Linked DNA regions of Homo sapiens: regions 1 and 2 are each linked to region 3. The links come from fine-mapping of genetic effects on gene expression. A gene starts in region 3. Each other region holds a variant in brackets. All regions are shown on one strand. Distances are between the middles of the regions.

Evidence for each region. PIP is the estimated chance that this variant, and not a neighbour inherited with it, causes the effect.
Region 1: its variant is the best candidate, but not a certain one, in a credible set for the expression of GAS5 in esophagus muscle (GTEx, PIP 0.64).
Region 2: its variant is the best candidate, but not a certain one, in a credible set for the expression of GAS5 in whole blood (TOPMed, PIP 0.63).

The regions. Positions count from the first base shown.
Region 1 is chr1:174,215,895-174,220,142 of GRCh38, reverse strand. RABGAP1L (RAB GTPase activating protein 1 like) reads right to left here. Exons shown (of 26, transcript NM_001366446.1): 2 at 848-1,018. The coding sequence starts at 985. Among named protein-coding and RNA genes, the nearest start is that of RABGAP1L, 58 kb to the right of the region's middle. The variant G/A (reference allele first, on the strand shown) is at 2,285.
Region 2 is chr1:174,384,053-174,388,300 of GRCh38, reverse strand. All of the region lies in intron 12 of RABGAP1L (RAB GTPase activating protein 1 like), which reads right to left. Among named protein-coding and RNA genes, the nearest start is that of GPR52, 62 kb to the left of the region's middle. The variant C/AC (reference allele first, on the strand shown) is at 2,345.
Region 3 is chr1:173,866,283-173,870,530 of GRCh38, reverse strand. GAS5 (growth arrest specific 5) reads left to right here and starts at 2,542. Exons shown (of 12, transcript NR_002578.4): 1 at 2,542-2,571; 2 at 3,488-3,540; 3 at 3,735-3,770; 4 at 3,964-4,003. ZBTB37 (zinc finger and BTB domain containing 37) reads right to left here and starts at 2,151. Exons shown (of 5, transcript NM_001122770.3): 1 at 2,126-2,151; 2 at 1,411-1,606; 3 at 1-331. The coding sequence starts at 305. SNORD77 (small nucleolar RNA, C/D box 77) reads left to right here and starts at 4,161; the gene lies at 4,161-4,230. SNORD76 (small nucleolar RNA, C/D box 76) reads left to right here and starts at 3,816; the gene lies at 3,816-3,896. It also overlaps SNORD75, SNORD74 and SNORA103. RefSeq lists enhancers at 259-358, 873-2,072 and a silencer at 1,707-2,116.

The sequences.
Region 1 (4,248 bases), 350 kb before region 3:
GCAGGTGAAACACAAAGCCTAAGCAAATAAGTGATGTCTTAAACACAATAATGCTAAAATACAGGTATCTAAAAATAAAGCCACTGATTATTTAAATAAAATTATAAAACAATATATTCTCAACATAAACATTTAGTAATCTCATTTTCAGAATATATTTTATTAGACTGATATATTAATACACTTTTGATGCCATAGTTAATACTAAATAAAAGTCATAAGTAATATATAGCACTTTTAACTACTTTTCCTATTCCTGTTTCTAGAAGACAGTTATACCATTTTCAAGCCTATATAACTGAGTTTACTTGCTTCCTTTTCTTTGACTTAGAAAGTGCAACACAGAAGTGAAAAAGGGACCATATCTAAATAAAAACTCAAATGCTAAAAATATAAGATATGCTTTAAAAACATTTAGACAAGTCGACTGTTAAATCACACAACGGAACGTTACCAGCTGATTTAAAACATAAAAATCATAAAGAAAAAAGTCTCTCAAGTGAAAGCAAAACATTTAATTAACTTCTAAAACCCAGCAGTAAGAGAAACAAAAACATCCAGATAAAGTAATGTAAAATTTAACCATTATGTCTAATTCACCAAAAAATCCTTTCTCTTCTTTTTCTTCTTTTATTCTTCCCCCTAAAATTCCAAATCAAAAGGTAAACAACCAAAAGCAAGAACTTTTTAAAATACACAAACCAAATAATTAGGGTCTGGATAAATCAAACATTGATTTTATTTTGAAAGTCAGCACTTGAGAAAAACCTTTGCATTTTACACATCTCCTAAGTTTCAAATAGTTTTTAATTAAAAATTATACCATATGTAGAAAAGAAAAAAATACCTTCAGTTGAGGTTTTTCTTCATGTTTTGTAGAATTATCATCTGCATACTGAGGAACCAAAACAAATTCTTCACTGTTCATTGTAGCCACAGAATCAGATGATCCACTAACCTTCTGTAATGAAGCTCTGACCTCCATTTCAGTTCTGCAAACTTCTCTTCCCACAACCACCTGGAAAAACAAAAGGGATTAAAAAAAAAAACCTACTGATTAAAAACATGAACTAATTAAAAACATGAACTAATAAAGCTTTAAAAATGGTTTATGTGAAGAAGAATCCTGCTGGCTAGATAATTATCTCAAAGTTAGGGAGGCTACCTTCTTGGACTGAGCCACTTAATGGAAATGTACTCTCTCTTCATCCTAAGTTTCCAGACTAATAGAGCCATATTGTTACCTAAAAATTTACACAAACCAGTCCATATCTCAACCAGATTTATCACTGTTTACCTGACACACTCACTCTCATTTCTCTTAGAAATACTGTTTTCTTTTTAATAGAGGAAATAATTAAATGATACTAGAAATACCTACAAATGCACACACAGACACAAAACCATATTCACTGACACTGCTATATTAATTAAATCTAAATGCTTCAAAAAAAAACTTATCTCCTCAAGACCGAATATTGTACCTGCAAATATTTTTTCTGAGTAACTAAAGTTGACTAATACAGAATTCAACATCCTAAGACATATAGCTTCTCTTTCCTGACACATTATCACTTATTAACACCAAAAAGAAAAAGAAAAAAGCTTCTATATTGCCTTCACGTAGCAAATAATGTTTCAGTAATCAAACACAGTGTAATTCTGTTTTCTGGATAGATCTCTACAGCATAGAAACAACACTCACTATCATATCCAGAAGTTCATGTACTCACACAACTAAGTTTAACTGCAGACATACACTATATAACAGACACAACTCAGCCCTGAGGTTACCTAAGTGAATAAGGAAAACAAGTAGCCTGCACTTCTGGGGCTTACATACTAGTAAGAAAACAAATAAAAAGGGAGCAAATGGTGATTCCAAGTCACTCTAAAGGCTATGCAAACAATAAACACGTTAATGTGACAAACAGTAGCTATGGGAAGTATACGGACAAATTAAGGTGGTAGGAAAAAGCTCTCTGAGAGGAAAATATCTGAGCCTAAACCTGAAAGACAAAAAAGAACCCTACTATTACACAATCTGCTCAGTGACCAAATGAGTAATGTGATAGAGGGGCAGGACAAGCAGGCTAGGGCTAAAGAACACGGGACCTTGTAAGCCATAGTAAGTCTACTGATCCATGCCTAAAATCCCCCCAGAAATGTTATTTTTCTTTCTAATTAGGTTACCTTTTCATTATAGCCTATAAGTATAGCTGCAATATTCCATTTTGCCATTAGGTGACACTAACACCATTACTCTTGGCAATAAAAAGAATGA[G/A]TCTAGCTTCAAGTTACATGTGTATCTTTTAAAAAGTAATTACTTTCCAACTTTATAAAAAATCAAAAATTTCAAGAATATCAAAATAAAGAATAACCATACTCCTGGACCAGTGTAATTAGCTAGCCATCATTTATTTCTGTTATGCATGTTAACACCCTTCCTTTTTAAAACCCAAGCGACATTCATCTGTCCTCTGAAGGTTTTTTTCTCACTTTGTATATTTTGTTTCTAAAAATGCAGAATGTGTTACAAGCCAGGTCTTTACTCTTCCAGACTGCACGATGAATCCTTAACTGCCAACACACCACATATTCCAGATGTCTTTCTGTGGTCAATCCTTCAAGTCCTTCTCAGGTTGCTGCTCCTCTACCTGATTTCTAAATGTTAGAAATTCCCTGAGTTCAGATCCTGACCTTTTCCCTTGTCACACACTCTAAGTAATGTCTGTCATTGTCATGGACGAAAATACCATCTGCAGGCTAACAGTCTTCCAAATTTCTATCCCAACTCAAATACCTTCTCTAAATTCCTGCCCTGAAATTCACCTCTCTACTTGATATTTCCATGTGGAAGTCTTATCGTATCTTAAATGAAACATGACCAAAATGGAATTCCTAATGTCTCCTCCAAACTTGTTTCCAGTCCCGATTTGCCATTTCAGTAAATAACACCACTATCTTCTACAAAGTTACTTGAACACGAAACCTGGATATCATCCTTGATTCACCTCCACTTCTTTACTCCTCACATCAGCAAGTCATGTCAGACCCACTTCCAAAATAAGACTCACATCTATCCATTTTTCTGTCTACTACTACTACCACTCTAGTCCAAACAATGCTCTTATCTACTGTAAAAGCCTCCTAACCCATCTTCTATTTCCAGTCTTCTTCCCTCAATCTACGTCATTGTTCACAAAGCTGCCAATTTATTTAATTTTTTTTCGGAAAATAAATTAGATTACATGAAAACTCCAGACCAAAACCTTTTCACTAAAATTTAAATAAAATTCAAACTGCTTCCCAAGACTTACAAGGCCCAATACACCCTTGCCCCCATCACTTTCTCATTATAATTCCTTAATCACACAAGTTCCAAAACAAGCAAAAACCAAGAAAAATCATTGCCAGCATATCTGGCTTGAAAGAAAGATTAAAAGTAGTTCTTCAGACAGAAAGAAAATTATATAGGTCAAAAATGTGGATCTATGTGATAAAAGGAAGAATAAATGTATTGGATGATTATACCACATGGACAAAAAAAAAAAACATGACAGCAATGGCAAAAAAAAAAAGGGGAGGGGGAGAGAGGGAGGAATTGGAAATATCCTGTTACAAGGTAATGGCACTACTTGTACATGGGTTACATGCAGTATAAAATTATTTAAAAAATTACTTTTTTACTCCTTTATTTTTAATTTTTGTGGGTACATGTGTATATATTAATGTGTTATGTGAGATACTTTTACATAGGCATGAAATGCATAATAATCACATCAGGGCAAATGGAGTATCCATCACCTCAAGCATTTATCCTTTGTGTTAGAAGCAATTCAATTATTCTCTTAGTTATTTTTAAATGTCCAATTAAATTGACTACATTCACCCTGCTGTGCTAGCAGATACTAGGTTTTATTCATTCTTTCTAATTATTTTTTCATACCTATTAACCATCCCCATGTCCCTTACCCATCCCACCTTCCCACTACCCTTTTCAGCTTCTGGTAATCATTGTTCTAATTCTCTATCTACATGAGTTCAATTATTCCAATTTTTAGCAATCAGAAATAAGTGAGAATGTGTGAACTTTGTCTTTCTGTGCCTGTTCACTTAACCTAATGACATCTGCTTTCATCCATGTTGCTGCAAAATGACAGGATCTCCTTCTTCTTTATGGCTGAATAGTACTCCACTGTATATGTATACATTTTCTTTATCTGTTGATGGACACTTAACGTTGCT
Region 2 (4,248 bases), 520 kb before region 3:
TGTATTTAATTATAAGAATTCTGACTTTATTCATGTTTTGCTTTTTTAAAAGAATGATCTAGCTATTTAAGAGTAAGTTCAAAATCTTTTCAAACACGTTTAAAATTTCACTGAGCATATATACTGTATCCTCACTTTAAAAAATATTTCCCCAAAGCACAAAGTGTAGGACTCCACATGACAGGTGCTTTACCTACATAAATCACAAAAATGTCTATATGTAAATGCCTACCTATTTTTCCCGACACTTAGGAAATTTCTAAATCGAATGTTTCAAAAAGAAATTTGAGCACAATTAAAAATATTTGACAATCCTCGTATAAAAGACATAGTAGTTTATACTTCTGTAGTTTACACAAATGTTACCCTTTTCATATCATGACATAATTATAATAATGGCCCAAATAAAAAAAATTTGAATTGTAAAAAATCCAACAAGTTTTCTAAAGGTCTAAGAATCAATTATGTTAGTTTTTTAAAACAGTTCCCTCAGATCTTTAAATAATTTCCTAAAGTCCATTAATAAAAATATTATTAGAAATATTTTATTTCTGAAAAAAATGTACACTGAATTTCAGCTGAGCAACCCTGTCATTTCTACCTCAGAAGTCTTTTCCCATTTGGAGCCTCATCTCTGTACATAGGGTCAGTGAGTCTGGTATAAATATCATCAACCCATGCAATTACTTCCCAATTTGTTTCTCTGTTAATCAATGTTCTTCCTACTCCAATATTACCTTCCAAAAAAAAAAAAGAAAAACCCAATGGGAGTCTCAGCTTAAAGAAATTTGTTAGATATTGTCTTTATTGAAGTTGGGCAGTGGGCACATGAGACTTCATTGTATTATTTTATTTCTGTGTACATTCAAAAATTTCCATTAGGTCTACAATGCTTACAGAAGGATTTATTGATAATATCACAATTTTCTGTTTAAAGGTCTGCATGCCTCTATAACATGGTAAACCTTGAGGGTAGAAACTATCCTTACTCATCTTTAAATCAGCAGTGTCTGTTAAAGTCCCCAAGAAAGAATAGATGATTAAGACTTAAAAGTTGAATGAATGAATGAATGAAGTGACTTGTTTTACAGGAAAAAAAGTGGTCAAGAAATGTGAAACAGCCTCAGTGTTTCAGTTACTTTGTTAAATAATCTCTTATGAGTATGCATTCCCACCTACATTGATTATAAACCTCAAAGGTAGAAACTATGTTGTTTTCTATGTAACTCTAAGAGTCTAAGATGATGCCTCATAAATTTATATTGAAGCAAGTAATAAATCTTGCATTTTAGAAACTGAGTGGAGATCTCTATTTGACTGTTTATTTAGTCATCAAAATATTTTGTTTTCTTACCCACCATACTGCCATTCTCATAATCTCTCTTTAAAATCATGACTAGAAGCTTCAAGTACTGCCTGGGCCAGGGTTATCGATTTTCCTAGTTTATTCACTTACTCACTAGAACTTCTACATGCTCTTATAAAAACTAATCTAGGCCGGTGCGGTGGCTCACACCTGTAATCCCAGCACTTTGGGAGGCCAAGGCAGGCAGATCATGAGGTCAGGAGTTCAAGACCAGCCCGGCCAACATGGTGAAACTCCGTCTCTACTAAAGATACAAAAAATTAGCCAGGCGTGGTGGCCCATACCTGTAATCCCAGCTACCCAGGAGGCTGAGGCAGGAGAATCACTTGAACCCAGGAGGTGGAGGTTGCAGTGAGCCGAGATCGCCCCATTGCACTCCAGCCTGGGCAACAAGAGTGAAACTCCATCTCAAAAAAAAAAAAGAAAACACAAACACACACAAACACACACACACACACACCCTGTTCTGGCTCTAAAACCAGAGTGGTTTAGATTCAGAAACTGGCTCTGTCATTTACTTGATATGATCATGGGCAAATTACTTATTGGCTGTGAGATCTTGAGCAAGTTACTTAGTTGCTGCCATTTTGTTTTCTGTATTTTTACACTAGCTACCTAATATAGCTATGCCTCAGTTCTCTCACCTCTAAAATGAAGATATAATAATACCTACCTCAGAGAGCTGCTGCAACAATTAAATTAACACATGGAGAGTGCTTAGAACAGAACCTGGCACATAGTAAGTACACTGAACTGTCAGTTATTACCTCTGTAGCCATGCCTCACCTTTCCTTCCGTTACAATGAGCTATCTCTGCTCCCAAATTCAACCCCTCCACTAGTCAACATATACATCTTTTCTTGCCTATTCATCAAATTATCCTACAATTATGTCCTCTTTCTCTGACACTATCAAATTTTCTGTTACATCCTTTCTAACAACATACAAACATGCTATATTGCCCATTTTAATAAAAAA[C/AC]TCTCAACCCACATCCACTTACTAATGTGTCCTCGTTTCCTATCATCCTTTTATAGCAAAACTATTTTTAAGAGCTATCTATATCTGCTGATTTCCAATCCAGCTGGGCTTTCATTCCTGCCTCTCCATTGAAACTGTTCTTAAGATCACCAGTGACACCTAAATTGTTGAATCCAGTGGAATTCTAGGCTTCATCAGACTTCACCTATCAGCACTTGACTACTGTGTCATTCTTGATAGACTTAGTTTACTGGATTTCTATCTTGATTCTCCTCCCACCTCACTGGTTGTACTTTCTTGGGCTCCTTTGCCTGATCCTCCTCATACGTCCAACTCCCAAACACTGGAGTGGTCGAGGGTGCAGTCTTTGGATGATGTCTTCGGATGATGTCTTCATCTAAACTCACTCCGTAAGTAATCTCGCCCATTTCATTCTAACAGCTTTAAAAACCATCTATATACTGATGACTCCCAAACTCATATTTCCTTCCCTATCTTTTCCTTGAACTCAATGTTACATGAAATTGATTAATGGACATAGTCACTTGGATGTCTTAAATGCATCTCAACATCTCCAAAATCTTGATTTTATCCTCCAAATCTCTCTTCTATATTTGAGTAAACAGCAAGTCTTCTAGTAGCTCAAGCCAAAAACTCTGACATCAGTGGCCAGTTATTTATTTTTCTCAGGCCACACAGAAAAGAGAAGCAAATACAGTCAGTACTCTCTTAAAATATATCCAGAATCCGATCACATGTCACCCTCTGCTACCAGCCTAGTGCAACATGTAATTATCTCTCCCCTGGATTATTTACAATAGCATTCTCCTAATCTGCCTGCTTCCACCTTTGTTCCCTTATAATCCATTTTTCACTGGGCAGTCAGAATGATGTTTTTAAAATGGCTAAATCAAAATATCTCACCATGACATGATCAAGACACAAATTAGTCAAGTAACATTCCCAGGGTTCAAGATGAAGCCAGATATAAGATAAATAAATCTATGTATAACCTAATAGAGAATATTACAACTTAGATTTCTTAAAACACTATATAAGACAAGATAATTAATTACCAAATATAGATATATAAAATGTTCATAAAATTGGACAGAAATCTGTAGTGGTAAGAGATATTTCATCAAAAAATTCAGTCAATAAATATGAATTGAGCACCTACTATACTCTAGAAACTGCAGGAGATGTCTCTAAAACAACAGTGACTTTAAGGAGGTCATGTGCACTTGACATAACTTTGCAGGATAAGAAGAGAGAAGTTAGTTAAGACAGAGTTACCTATAATAAATATTACAAAATAAAGAGAGAAAAATGGATATGCAAGGTATAATGAAGGCACTGTTCTGACAAGAGAAAAGAACACACTTCAAATAGCCATCTATGTATAAGACATAAATTTCTTTTTTTTTTTCCTTTTTTTCCTTTTTTTTGGTTTAGTGACACTATTCTTGCTTCAGCACCTACTGCAGTTAAAACTCAGGGCTTTTTTTTCTTTTTTGTCATTTATTTAAGGCACAATTTATACAGAGTAAAATTCACATTTTTAGTATACAATTCTGTGAGATTTGACAAATGCACATAGGTTTGTGAGCACTACCATAACCAAGATACAGGATAGTTCCCTCATTCCCCCCATACCCAAATTCCCTGGACCCTCTTGTAGTCAATACCACCAGTCCTTAACAACTACTGACATGCTTCCTATGATGATAGTTTTGACTTTTCCAGAATTTCATACAAATGGAATAACATAGTATTAAGTCACTTGACTTTGGCATAGGTCACTTAACATGATGCACTTGAGATCCATCAGTTGTAATGTATATCAGTTCATTCTTTTAATTGCTCAGTAGCATTCCATACAATGAATATACCACAGTTGGTTG
Region 3 (4,248 bases):
TAGCTGATGATATCTGCCAGTTGCAGGCATATCCGCCCTGTGTAACAGAAAGAAAGGAGCTGTTCAAAAACAGTAGGGTTCTTGATGACTGAAATGGAGACTGTACTCATCTCATTCAAGGACATGTGATCCCGGAAATAGGGGGAGCTGGCAGCCAGCACCACTTTGTGAGCCCGAAAAGCTTGTCCTTGCACATTGACCACAATATCACAGAGACGGCCCTGCATGCGCAACTGGTTTAGATGGCTCAGGACAGAGTTGCTGAAGTCAGGAATCTCCAATTGTATGTTCCCACCTTTCTCCATGGTCGTGCCTGAGGGTGCATTCAACCCTGCTGAAAAAAGAAACCATATTCTCATTAATAATTATAATTTTACTTCCCGGATGGTTTCCATTTCAAAAGTATTTAAACATAGTTATCTGGTAAAGTTTCAAAATCTCCAGATAAAAGAAATACCTTCCTTATATTTAGATGTGGAAACAGAATCACCAACAGGTTTTTCAGTTTAAGTTTCACAGGAGGACATAGTTAAAACTAAAAAGTGATCTTTAGACTCCTAAAAATTCATGTTATGACCATGCTTTCCTTACTAATAAGTTATATAACATCAAAACAGAAGTTCAACAGAAGGTAGGGGGAAGGACTTTTAAGTGTTAACTATAAGGTACTTGCAGACTGAATATAACATCTCATAACTTTACAACTTTTCTCTGGAGGAGGAAAGCTTTCTGAATAAATGCAATTCTACATAGCTTGATATCCCTCTTCTTAGTATTTTACTACCTGCTGCAAGAATTATGTTTATTATTTTATAAAAGGACTAATATCCCACATGAATGTAGGCTAATATTTCTAAGCTTAAGAATCAGAGCCCCCCCCACAAAAAGACTTTGGTTATAGGGCTGTGAAGCAAACTCTAGGAAAAATCCCACAGCTGTGCCAGGATTCAACCAAGATGCAGAGAATGTGAAGTTCAGTTGTCAAAATTAGGAAAGCTGGGTAAATCTGCCAAATTCGAAGTTGGCAATTCCGAGGTGGTGATGAATACTTCCATCCTGAAACTTAGTTCTCCAGATCCGATGAAAAAATACAGCATTTACCAAGTATGCCAACATTTTTCCATTAAAATATTTTTAAAAAATGGCTGAAACACTAAACCTGAAGCTGTATACAAGATAGTTGAAAGTACAGTTTCAACTACTGAAAATAGTTTGTATAAATCCGAACAGGAAGACATTTACTTAAGCCCAATGTGCGTTCACTTATCTATATATTACATAGTTACACCACACCTGAAACTTCAGGAACTTACTCTGCCAAGCTCACAGTACTGCCCCGCATTAACAACACACTTATTAAATAGGGAAGTGTATACACTGTTTTCAACAATCAACTTTAGCCAATCTGACCTTTTTCCAAAGCGTTATTGTTTGTTTTGAAACTTTTAATCCAATAAGAGCCTCTGTCGATGCCATCATGAATTCAGATGTGTTTATTTTGGAGCCTACACCAGCGCCTTTTTTGTTTGCTCTTTCCGGCAATTCCCCAGTGAGGAAGCCCCTGGAGGAAAGTCTTTCGCTACCGTCGGCACTGGAGGGGTGAGAGCTGTAAAAGGGAGAATTGGGAACGGCATGGGGTTGGCCACTCCAGCACTTGAGCAGCTTTCTTCTGCGTTAGGAAGCCTGGGGAGAGGGGAACTGGCTAAAGGGCAAAATGTCACTGAGGAACTTCGGAGAAGATGGGGACAAGGCGTCGGGCGGGGGAGCCAGCGCTCAGGTGAGAACTAGGAAGGGGGCGGCGCCCAGGGACCGGCTCCAGGCGGCGGCGGGCGGGGAGCTGCCAGGAGGTGGGTGTGCGTATCTGGGTGTGTCCCGGCTGCGGTGGGGGAGGGGGCCGCCCTTCCCGGGGTCCTGAGGGAGGGGCCCCGCGAGGGGGCGGGTCCGGCAGATCAGCCCGGCCGGGGGCCAAGGGGGTGGAAGGTCGCCCGGTGCCTGGAGGCGGGGTGAAGGAAAGTAGCTGAGCGCCCCAGGAGCGCGCTGCGGCGGAGGGCGGGCGAGGTGACCCCGGTGCAGGGAAGTGGCACTGGGGTGTGGGGCCCGAGTCCAGTCAAGGAGCAGCACCTACCTCCGGGGGTGGAAATGGGCCGGAATGGGCCGGAACACCGTCCCGGAAGTGAAATCCCCCACCCCCTCCCACGGAGCGGGCGACGTGCCGGAAGGAAATCACTCAGCCTTACACCGCCCCCCCTTCCCCCATCCCCAGAGCTTTCCTTGCCTCGCGCCCCCTCCCCTCTCTGCTCTTCCTCCTCAGTCGGGAGGAGGGCGGGAGCACGGCATCACGTGGACGGTCATGTCTCTGCCCACAATGGCGAGGAAGGGCGGGGAAAAGGGGCGGACTTAAGGGGTGGGAAGAAGGTGATACTGGATGAGAGGAAGATTGAGGGAGGTTAGGGGGAGGAGCCGAAGCGGACGCTGCCGGGAGCGTGCGTCGTGACGTCATCAAAAGAACTCTTATATACAGGAGCCCAGGCACCATACTGTCTTTTCGAGGTAGGAGTCGACTCCTGTGAGGTATGTTTTATCTTTGCGAATGTTGCGGGTTTTGGGGCGCTCCAGCCTTTGTCTGCTAAGGTCACCCTGAATTGACTGGGACTTCTAAGCCAGTCGCGCGCCTTTGCAGGGCCTACAAGTTGAGGATGGTGGGGGATTGCACATATGGTGCATGCGTGACCTAAGCTGCGACTATGTTAGAGTAGAACTGCGGAGAAGCCTCGGCTCTCGTGCCCTGCCTCTGATGAAGCCTGTGTTGGTAGGGACATCTGAGAGTAATGATGAATGCCAACCGCTCTGATGGTGGCACATGCCGAGTCACCCGAGTAAGCTATTGTTAAGGGCCGTGACCCGAGCCTCCATCAGCCGTCCGCTCTCATGAAAGGCTGTCGGTGGTAGTCCACGTGCTTAAGTGCCTGCATTCCGCAGTGTCACCAATATTTCCATTAGTGTTTCTTTTTTCTTTTTTGAGACCGAGCCTCGTTCTGTCACCCAGGCTGGAATGCAGTGGCTCGACATCGGTTAATGGCAACCTCCGCGTCCCGAGTTAAGCAGTTCTGCCTCAGCCTCCCAAGTAACTGGGACTACAGGCGCGCGCCACCATGCTAGGCTTTTATATTTTTAGTAGAGACGGGGTTTCACCATGTTGGCGAGACTGGTCTTGAACTCCTGACCTCAGGTGATCCACCAGCCGTGGTCCCCCAACATACTGGGATTACAAGCCGTGAGCCACCGCGCCCGGCCGCCATCGGTGGTTCTTAACTGCGGGTGCAGTGCTTCTTTGTAACATTAAGTGTATCCTTTACCTGTCGCTAGATAATGAATGGTATGTTACCTGCATCATTGGTTTAAAAAGACGAACCGTTTTTTTAAAGAACACTCTTTAAAAAAAAGAACCGTGGAACAATGAATTAAAATCTGTACCTGATCTCTTTAGGTATGGTGCTGGGTGCAGATGCAGTGTGGCTCTGGATAGCACCTTATGGACAGGTAAGAATTGGGGAAAGTATGGTGGGAAGAATGAAATCTAAGAGGTGGTCTCAGCCTGTGATGCTTTAAGAGTAGTGGACAGAAGGGATTTCTGAAATTCTATTCTGAGGCTTTAATGTTAACAGCATTTATATTTAACGTGACTGCTGTGAGGTTCATTCTCACTGTTTTGCTTGCATCTTTTTGTTTTCTAGTTGTGTCCCCAAGGAAGGATGAGAATAGCTACTGAAGTAAGTTGAAAATTCCCTCTCAAAAAGGTTTAAAGCCATTGGATGTGCCACAATGATGACAGTTTATTTGCTACTCTTGAGTGCTAGAATGATGAGGATCTTAACCACCATTATCTTAACTGAGGCACCCAAAATGGTGAGTTGGGGAACATAGAGAGTACACCTAAGTTCACATGAAGTTGTTTCTTCCCAGGTCCTAAAGAGCAAGCCTAACTCAAGCCATTGGCACACAGGTGAGACACCTCTATTTTGTACTTCTCACTTTTAAGGGATTAGAAAATAGCCAAAGCAATGATGATTATCTATGTTAGTGCTTCTCTCCCCTCTTTTCAAATGAGAATTTTGCTCTCATATTGATACTAAGTTTAATACTGAAGAAAATGTGAAAACAGATACTATGATGGTTGCATAGTTCAGCAGATTTAATCATGAAGAGATGTACTATCTGTCTGATGTATCTGGGGTAGTTGTGGTTTGC